Linked DNA regions of Homo sapiens: region 1 is linked to region 2. The links come from fine-mapping of genetic effects on gene expression. A gene starts in region 2. The other region holds a variant in brackets. All regions are shown on one strand. Distances are from middle to middle. Region 1 has its middle 32 kb from the start of LINC02272. Region 2 holds the start of GLRB (glycine receptor beta).

Evidence for each region.
Region 1: its variant is fine-mapped to the expression of GLRB in adrenal gland (GTEx, PIP above 0.99).

Annotation. Positions count from the first base shown.
Region 1 is chr4:156,671,804-156,677,192 of GRCh38, forward strand. No RefSeq gene overlaps it. Among named protein-coding and RNA genes, the nearest start is that of LINC02272, 32 kb to the left of the region's middle. The variant G/A (reference allele first, on the strand shown) is at 2,260.
Region 2 is chr4:157,073,406-157,078,757 of GRCh38, forward strand. GLRB (glycine receptor beta) reads left to right here and starts at 2,745. Exons shown (of 10, transcript NM_000824.5): 1 at 2,745-2,892; 2 at 4,591-4,741. The coding sequence starts at 4,620. RefSeq lists a silencer at 1-146.

The DNA.
Region 1 (5,389 bases), 400 kb before region 2:
CAGCAAATATGAATTTTGCTTTTTCCATTTCCATAAGCTCTTTGTTCACCAAAAATTTATGTTAATTGCTAGGGAAAGGGGCTACCCATAAGCACTGGGAAAACAATTCATGGTTTAATATAAATAATAAATTCAGCAGTAGCCACTTTACTCAGGATGTATACCACCATGAAACATTACTGCAAATTTTTGCAGTTATAAGTACATTTTGTTAGAGGATTATGTAAAAAGGAAGACAATTGGAAAGGATTTACTGTTAACTAGGGAAATACAAATCTAGAAAGTTATAAAGTTAAAATTAAACTCTTGGAAGCTTTTTGAATCAGAAACAGAAAAGGCTTATTTGCAGTTGTGAGGAAAAAGTGAATTTAGTGTTCATCAAAATTTCTCTTCTATTACAAGTGTTGTCTTTAATTTCCAATATACTCTTACATAGGCAAGCTCTCTTCACTCCAAATTAATGTGTTCTGTTCTACCTTTTACATTTACTTTTTATTAAAGAGTTCCTCTTCTTAGCAACCTGATAATTTAGTGAATCTAAGAAGTCTATCAGATCAGTTGTCTAGAATAACATAAACAAAGGAAATAATTCCTAAATTAAACACTTCAAAATTTTCACTTCTCAATCAGTTTTGTGCGTGAAGGGGGAGTGCATCGCATAGACAAATATATTGAGACAATACTAGAAATCATAGCAACCTTAGAACCTCTTTAACTAAGGCCCCTTGAGGTTAATTAAATTGCTTTCGGTCAGATACCAGTTCAAGCCTAAAACAGAAGTTTGCTGCTGGTGCTAGTGCCTTAACAGTTCAAAGGAACATCCTACAGAGCTGGGACTCAGACTTCTGTAGAGGGAACTTGAGCCATCTGGCACTGATACCTCTGAGCTGGCATGATGAAGCTAGTTCTTGAAATACAGAAAAGATTGGAAACTGGTAGCAACTGCTGTTACTCAAACCAAATGCTGAGATGAAGAGCGAATTATTAGAGCAAGCAATCTGGAAGGTGCTTGTCTCTTCTTCACTTCCTTTAATGCTCCCTATTGGCAGGACCTAACAGGGAGTCAGCGGGCAAAGGAAAAGAATGGCTTGCAGAATTCCAGCCATAACAATCATAAAGAAAAGAACAGAGGATAGGTCTGGAGCTTATAGTACTTAACAATCGGCACATTCAAAGAGGCATTCGACTTCCCAGATGACACTGCAGTTGGGACCAAAATAATGTATCTGTTAAAAATGTAAAAGAGGAGTATGACTGTGGGCATGCAAGCTGCAGTGTCTGCAGTAACCACTTCTGAATCTAGAGATCAATGCAGTTTAGTCATGGAGCTGTGACACATACAAATTACAGCTCAAGAGCCAAAAGTGATTAAAGAGGAATTTCTTCTTATGACCTCTTGGATGACATTAAAGTGACTGCAAATAAAAAGTCTTTAGAAACACCCATTAAAGTACCCTTTGTTTCCATTCCACTTTCCTGGCAGGTTTCTTTCTCGTGCATGCTCCCTCCCCGCCCAAAAAGAAAAAAAAATCGTACTCTACTCCCAGTTCATGATGCTTTCATTTCTTCTCTTTCCCGCTCCTTATATCATTTTGCATCAACTATTAATTATGATTACTTATTAATTAACATCTCTTCCTTCAATACATTGTTATTTTTCAATGTGATCAATTGATGTATGAACAACCCCAGTTGCTCACTCCTCTCTATGAATATGTTCTTTGGCACGAAATTTTATAGCCCCCGCTACCCTCACCCTAAGCTTGGCCATGTTATTTGCTTTAGCCACTGAAATTTTGGAAAGTGGGACATAAGCAGAGGGTTGGGAAATAGTTTGACCGACTGGGTTTGTTCTCATTCTTGCTCTATGACAGCACTATAAGAATACATCCAGGCTAGCCTGCTGGAGGATGGGAGATTGTCAGTTCAGATATGGCTGCTGACCTAGCTGGCAGCCAGTGTACACCAGACCTGTACATCAAACCACTCAAGATGAGAATATCCCCACCAAGCCTAGCCTAAATATCTGGCCGTAGATTGATGAGCTAAATGAATTCTTATTATGGTAAGTTCCTGAGATTTGAGATGGTTTGTTATACAACAGGGAACTGATAGGCTTATTCTTCAAGAGGAGCAAAACAGGGATGATTGCTATTCTCTTCAATGGGTTGAGGAAAGAAGAAATTATGTGAACATTTATACACTAATAATTTATTCTGTCATATTTCAGTCAGATTAAAGCAAACAGCCAAAAACAAG[G/A]ACAAAGTCCAAGGTAAGAGACTGATGATAAGTGGCCTGTTTACAAGGAAAATAAGATCACTAGCTCTACTTACAGCTGATTCAGAATAACTTCATTTTTAAAGCCTAAAATTTTATAGTCAAGCTCTTGAGTGCAATTTCCTTAACATTTTCTAAACCATACAGAAAATCATAAAGAAACAATATTTCTTTGTTTGAGTTTCCTTTTTAGGAGTTAGGTCTTATTTTAAAAATATTTTCTAGCCTGTTTAGGCTCTTATTTAAAATTATCTACTTTTCTCAAAGTCTTTCTCATACTTGAGATATCCAAAATATTGAATGAGTGATGTAAACTATACCAGATAAACTATGAGTCTATATTTTTACCCTGATTCAGTCAGTTTCCAAGGAGAACTTTGAACAACTAAAAATGTGTATTACTATAATCTCTCTGAAATATTTCTTATTAATTTTTTGGGGGGAAAATGAGTCATTCTGAGCCAAAAAAAAAAAAGGTTAACCAGACACTTTCCACTCCTAACTTGAGTTGGCGATATCAGCAGATTCAAATTACCAGCAATGGGAAGATATAGGAAGATGTAGGTACCTACCAATGAGCTTACCTTCCCAGTGCTCTATATAACCTCACTTCTATAGCCCAAAGTATTAAAAAGAAGAAAAAATAATAATTCAGGCTTACTATTTAAAAATACAGTGATTCTGGCCGGGCACGGTGGCTCACGACTGCAATCCCAGCACTTTGGGAGGCCGAGGCGGGTGGATCACGTGAGGCCAGGAGTTTGAGACCAGCCTGGCCAATGTGGTGAAACCCTGTCTCCACTAAAAATACAAAAATTAGCTGGGCATGGTGGCGGGCGCCTGTAATCCCAGCTACTCGGGAGGTTGAGATGGGAGAATTGCTTGGACCCAGGAGGCAGAGCTTGCAGTGAGCCAAGATTGCACCACTGCATTCCACCCTGGGTGACAGAGTGAGACCCTGTCTCAAAAAACAAATAAAAATACAGTGATTCTGAGAGGCCTTCCCTTTCCACACCACCTGCTACTTGTTTGATAGCTCTCATCCCATTTTCCTCAACTGCCACATATGGCCAGGACTTCCACAGTGTATTAAACATCTTCTTTGGACAAGAGAAATTTCACTGAAGCAATGAGTGTAGAAGTTATTAGCATGAATTGAAGACTGATGCTGGCACACAAATAGGGAGACACATCAATATAATGACCTAATGAATCTAGAAATAGCTTCAAGAAGTTATGGAAAAGTAGATGTGATAAAAGTTGCATTTCAAATCAGTGAGCAAAGTATTTAATAGAATTGAGACAACTATGTAGCTATTAGGAAAACATTAAAGTTGGATGCATAATTAGAAACTCTCCTCAGGTTTATCAAGATTTTAACTGTGAGGAAATAAAACAACAAAAGATAGAGACAAAAGCAGGTAAGCACTTTAAAATATCATCTCAGAAATCTTCCAAGTTTGATACATAAATTCAACTAAAATAAATGATTTTTCATTAGAAAAGCATTTGTCATAAGACAGATGAAATTGTGAGAAAAATCATTTGCAATACATATCATAGACAAAAGGCCAATACTCCTAATATATGAAGACTTCTTGTAAACCAAAAGAAAAATAAAGAATAGTATATAGTATGCTTTCATCTGTGCAAAAAAGAATACAATATATGTGGAATATCTCTGGAAATAGATATAAGTAACTATTGCCATTGTCTGTCCCTACGGATTGGAAATCGGTGATCAGGGGTTCAGAAATTGAAAAGGGCTTTTTCACTCTATAGCCCATTCCACTTTTAAATCATGAACTCTATTAATACATTATCTATTTGTAAATAAATAAGCAATAATTGAATTAAACACTTTTATTTGTAACAATTATATAAAAATATAGTTTACATACTTATTTAAAAACTAGTAACATTATATTTTAATCAGGATTCTTGATGCTTGCTACCAGACAAACCCCAAAATCTCAAAGCTTAAGAGACACAGGGTTTATTTCTCACTCCATAGAGACTGATATGTGTTGGATGGCCCTAATGTAAGTAATATCCAGCCATTCGGAACATGTGCCTTTAAGACTGGTTGCATTAAAAGAGACTCACCAATTCTAAACTATCCCAACCCAGACCTGACACAAGTCATTTCTGCTAACAGTCCATTGGCCAGAACCACTAGCATGGTTCTCACCTGACAACTGCAAGGAAGGAGGTGAAAGGAAAAGCATGGATAGCATATCATGACTTGCATTTTTCACACTGCAGCAAATTCATTTTTAAATAAAGGTTTTAATAATTAAAAAGCCTCATATTTGGTATAACCTCTTTTTGTGTGCTTTTGTTTTCACCTTGTTAAAAAGGCATATTAAATATTCCCAATGAAGAATTACATCTATGAGACCTGTGGGGTGTCATAGAATATCTAGATATATCCTCTCCTAACTTTGACCTTGCATAGAAATATGGGCAAATATACTATTGGCCAATCCAAATGCGAATACGCTTTGACATTTTTAAGCTTAGTCATTTTTTAGCTTTTCCAGGTACAATTAAACAATTGTAGTCTACACAGTCATTAACCAAACAGTGTTTGGAGACAGATGAGCTCATATTATCCATTTTGTCTGCATCCTTCAGCCAACTTTTTTACATGTACAGCCCATGAAGGCCACTAAGTGTGTTCTACATCCACAAATTACAAAGTCAAATGGGAAAGCCAGTGCAATGTTCTGCTATTTTTATCCTGGAAAGAACTGTTTGTATTCATGCTTAATTTTTGTCTCTTAGTTCTACTCCAGGTCAGTTTTTGTCAAACTATATTTTTTCACTTTCCAGCAAGAAAAATGAGGTCTGCTTCTTAAAAGTAAAAAGCAGTGGAATATGTTACTAGATGGCTTCTGCATTGTTCATTTAAGTACTACGCGATGAAATATAGACATGATTTAGCAGTGTAATTTAGTTTCTCATCATTCTGTGTAAGTATTTACTTATGAGAAGGATTCCTATAACCAATTCTGAATAATGCCAGCTGTCCAAAAGAAAGACTCAGGAGACAAGACAGAAATTTTGGTGACTGGGGGATTACTCACCAGAAGACATTGATGAACATTTC
Region 2 (5,352 bases):
AACAATTGAAGGTTTGTAGACCATTGTAAACACTGGTTTATAAAATGGGGACTAACTGCTGGGTGTTGAGTTGAGGAATGACACAATATGACCTATGACATGTTTTAAAGGGATCACTCTGGCTACTGTTTTGAGATTACTCAAGGGTAGGAGAGGACAATGATAGAGGCAGGGTGAGTAGCTAAAGTGCTATTATAGTAATCTAACGTAGAGATGAAAGTCACTGAGTCTAGGTTGGCTGCAGTAAAAATCATAAGAAGTAGCTGAATTCCTGTTGTCATTTGAGAGTAAACAGGATTTCCTCAGAGATTTGGTTGTGAGGTGTGAGAAAAAGAGCGGAATCAAGAACAACTTCATGATTTTTAGCCTGACCAACCCTAAGGATGAGGTTGCCGTGAACTGAGAAGGAGAAGGCTGAATGTGGGGCAGATTTTAGGGAGAACCATAGCTCAGTTTGGGACACACTGAGTTTGACATGTTTATTAAATACGCAAGTTGAAATGTTGAAAAGGCAGTTAGATAGATGAGTCTGGAGTTCTGGAGAGATGTCTAGTCAGGAGAAGTACATATGGGAGCTATCAACATGGTGTTTAAAACCTTGTGACCAGATGAAATTACTAAAGGAGTGAATATTGATAGAAATAAATAGAGAAAAGTAGATCAACACTTGACAGAATTGGGGAAAATAGGTTATTTCATGACATTATTTAGAAGCATCCCTTTTCACACTATGATATAAAAGTTATAGAAATATAGGTAAGCAGATCACTTTCATAGAAAAAAATTTTCAGAATTCTGAACTTGACCATTTTACAGGCTAGAAGAAGTGCTTTTAGGGCATCAACTATATTTCTTAACCTTTGGGCCAAAACCCTACAAACCCATCCAACCTGCTGGACTTGCTTTTCTTCTGAATAACCTAATTCTCCAATATAACATCCATGGATGGCACAGAAACAATACTAGGGAAGGTGAGCAAGTCTGTTGTAGGTATTTTCAGCATAGTTCTTCCAAATGTGGACATTAGAGTTTGTAAATAAAAGATGTTCATTTTATTACAGGAATCGGAATTCCTATTATTCTAAACTCTTAATAATTTCTTGATTAATTGAAAACTAAGTGTAAGGTTTTCGCCAACTTCTAAACTCCCCTGGCTGCATGAAAACTAATTCCTTTATCATTCTTCATATGACCTATTCACCAAAAGTTATATCTTATGAAACGTATATTATCAATATAGTTCTCTCTAATAAAGCATTAAAATCCAAAGTTATATCCTGATCCACTTTGGCGGGGGGGTCTTCAAACAGTACAGCTCTTTGAATAATGATCATTTTGTAATGTAAATAAGGTAATGATCACTTATTAATGATCACTACTCTTAGGCAGCAGAATATCTCATGAAGCTTATGGAACACGGTTATATGCAGGAAATATTCCTTCCCTCCATATGCTGCGGGTGGAAAAATTTATTAGTGGATACATCTGTGGGTCCACAATACAATGCTAAGTGATGCTCACTTGAGACAATGCTTTTTTAATAAAAAAAATCCATCAGGACCTGGTGCAGTGGGGTGGGGTGGCTCAAGCCTGTAAGCCCCCCAGCTTGGGAGGCTAAGGCAGGCGGATGGCTTCAGGCCAGAGTTGGAGACCATCCTGGACAACAAAGCCAGAGATGCTGTCTCTTAAAAAATAATAATAATAATTAGTGGAGCGCAATGGCCTGTCTGTTGTTCCAGCTACTCTACTAGGGAGACCGAGACAAGAGGATCTCTTGATTGCCCAGAAGTTCAAGACTGCGGTGAGCGATGACTGTGCCTCTGCACTCCAGCCTGGGCAACAAAGTGAGCTCCTGTTGCTTAAAAAATAACAATTAAAAAAAATCAATCAGGCATACATTCAAGAGGTAATAGGATAGCCTTATCTGTTATCTAAGGGCTGCATATCCAAGTAAGGGCTACTTCTTCACAAGGATGAGGACAACAGTATTTTGCTCTTATAAGGCAGAGACCCTGTCTGGTTCAGATATGCAAAAATCACTAATTTTGAATCTCTGGTAAATTTCTTTCAAGATCTGTAACTCTAAGTAAATCTCTTAATATAACTGAGTTTCAGATTCTTCATCTACAGAAGGGGATGACAAAACTTGCCCAGGAATGTGGTGAGGGCCACATGAGATAAGGCGAGTGAAAGGTGTTTTGCAACTGTCAAGTTCTGTACACATGTTAATTATGTAACAGATGTTAAACATAGTATTACCTGTATGACTATATTGTCAGTAATTTTGACCAATTTAAGCTTGCTCAGAAAGTTCAGGCTTTTAGAAATTGGAAGACCCGGAGATTAAGCTGGATGTCTGGGTTCCAGGCAAATGGTGAAATGACAGAAAATGTGTTTTGTTCGCTTTGACCCAAGAAGGTCATTTGTTGCTCTGTTGTTTGTTGCTAGTGGTCAAAAGCTGACCCCAAGCAATCCCAGCTCCTTGAAAGGTTTTTTCTTTTTGTACCGACACTATCATTCCCGCCCTTCGTCCCCAACTCCTTTAGTCCCCTAAGGAGTGAGGGGGGTACACATTTCTGCTCGGTAACCCCTCCAATGCCTGAAGGGGACGATGCCGTGACGTTGCTCTGTCGGGACACCTCTTCCCTCCCCCGCCCGCGGTCGCCAGGTTCCCCCGCGGCCCGCGCTGTCCCCGCTGCGGCCCCGACCGCGGCGCGCCACGGCGCAGGCTCCGCGGCCCGAGCAGGCGCGTCAGCCGAGCTCGGCGGTGGCGCGGGCGGCTGGGACGCAGCTGCCCCCGCTCGGCGCCCGCTGCACCCTTAGCAGCCACTGCCACCTGGGCCCGGAGCCTCCACGATCTCGCCCGGCGATTGTGGGCAGGGGCGCCTCCGGGTAAGTGCCAGGAGCTCCACTTAGGAGGAGGGGACGCGGGTTGGGGCGGCGACGGTGGTCTGAGGACGGGAATAGACGCCTTTGCGGAAACAGCGGGTCAAGCCCGGGGCGGCGGAGCGCGAGGAGCACTGCGGCGTGCCCGGGAGGACGCGCGCTGCCCTGCGCGGGAGAGGGGCGCGGGGCGCCTGGCAGCGGCAGCCGGGTCCCCGCTGCGGTGGCGCCCGCGGAGACGCTCCGGGTGGAGAGATGCAGAGGGCCGGGGTAATTAGGAAACGCAAGGTTGGCCAGGAGGGCTCCTTGCGTTGTTTTGTTTATGAGGATCCTCCAGTCAATGCAGCTGTCCCCCTTGAAAGATTGGGGGTGAGGACAGAGCAGAGTGGTGAATTTCTCTGTTTTTCGAAGCGTTAGGGGGGCTCGGCCCTCCTTTTTGCGGGGGCAAGGATGTGAAAGTGGGAGAAGTACCTGCTGCTGTGGGCAAGGTGTCTGGAAGCAGGTGCCGCTGTCGGATGGGGGAAGGGAGCGTCCAATGTTGTGAAGTTGCCAGAGGAGAACCTTGTGTTGTTGCTGTTGGTCTGATGAGCCCCCTCTGTTGTCTTCAATTTAAAGTACCCAGGGAGAAGCCCCTCTGGCTTGCCTGGAGTGTGTGTAAAAGATAAATATGGGGGGAAGAATCCTGGGGGGGGGGGGGGAAGATGAAAAACATGACATAAGGAGAAGCAAATTTCTGAGGGTGAGATGGGAATTAAGTTAGCGTTGAAGAATATGACAGGTCTTTTACTCTGCGGAAAACAATGAAAGAGAAACAATTTATGGTTTGGAAATGAAGGTTGCAGAAGAGTTTGAACTTCTCTAGTGTAGGTAGAGGCTTAATTATTTTTTATTTATCAGAATCTCTGGCAAGAATATGGTTCTGATTTGAGCATGAAAATGTTATTAAAATATGGCTAGGACGATAATTTGAAAAAAATGTAACAACACTTGTTTTATTTCTTGTTGTAGAATTTCTGAAGTAATCTTTTTGATGACAAATGTTAGTAGCAAATAAGTAAGAAAGCTTTAAAGCTAACTTAAGAGGCACCTTTTTGGGGCAAAAAGGTAGCTTGCCAATGTAATGTGTTTAAATAAAAAAAGCAATGAATTTTGAATGTGGAACTCTTTGATATTAACTTTTTCTTTTATCTGTCTTTTTTAATACTTAGAATTTCTTTTTCTTTAAAATACATTATTTTTGAAAAAATATACATAAGAACTTCAAACAATATAAAAATTTAAAAAGAAAAAGATACTTCCAAAGTACTAGCCGAAGATAATCATTTTAACGCTGTGTTAAACCATGCTTCCAGATATCTTTCTGAACATATTTTTGATATACTGTGCAATTCAATATCAATTTATAATTTTGTGTAGCTATAGAATCAGAAATTTTATACAGTAACCTATTATATCTCGTTGGCGGTCTTGTTTTCTATGTGCCATTATTTAAACTGACTTTTACTGCTATATAAAAAAGACTTTACAACTACTATATAAAAAATACTAAATATGTTGTGAAGTATTACCACATAGGACTGAGCAATGAGGATTTGATGTACAAATGTACTTGCCCTTTGGGTAGTAATGCTTATACTCTTTAAAGGGACAGTCATATAGTTATCATTTTCTTCATAAATGTAAACATTTTCTTGTTCTCTCTTGTAGATCGATCTTCTGAAATTCAAGTTTTCAAGATGAAGTTTTTATTGACAACTGCCTTTTTAATTTTAATTTCCTTGTGGGTGGAAGAAGCCTATTCTAAGGAAAAGTCTTCAAAGAAAGGGAAGGGGAAAAAGAAGCAGTATCTATGCCCATCGTATGTTCTTCATGTCTTATATTCTTATATGGAGAAATGTTATTGCGTGTTTTATAAAAGTAAGGTGGTTTATGAAGACACACATCAACAAAACTTTTCATATCGGAATGTATATCCATCTGTTACAGAGACAGAAAATGATAGGGTGAGGAGAGGTTTAGAATGTAAGAATTAATTCCCAATGTTCAAGGTGGTTTTATAGTTTTCTTTTTTTAAATCATGCCATGGGTTTATATAATTTTTATACACTGTTTACAAAAGTAGAAAAAGTCACTATTTTTTTCTTATGCTAAATGTGCTGTGCAACTTTAATTGGATACTGATATACTGTGTTTTGAGCAAATACCAGTTCAAAAAGTTTTTTTTTAAAAAAACCCTAAAATATTTAATAATATTTTATTTAAAAGTCAGATAGGTAACTGTGATCTTAAGGTCAGTTCATATGTATGCATGGCAAAAGGAAATTCATATGATAGATCAATTTTCTAATTTAGTAATTGTAAATAGGTTATATTAGGAGATTAGGATATTTTGTAGAAAGCAGGTCATTAAATTTGAAATTACTTGAAAACACAAATTCTAAATCCAACACATCCCCCACAAAAGACAAA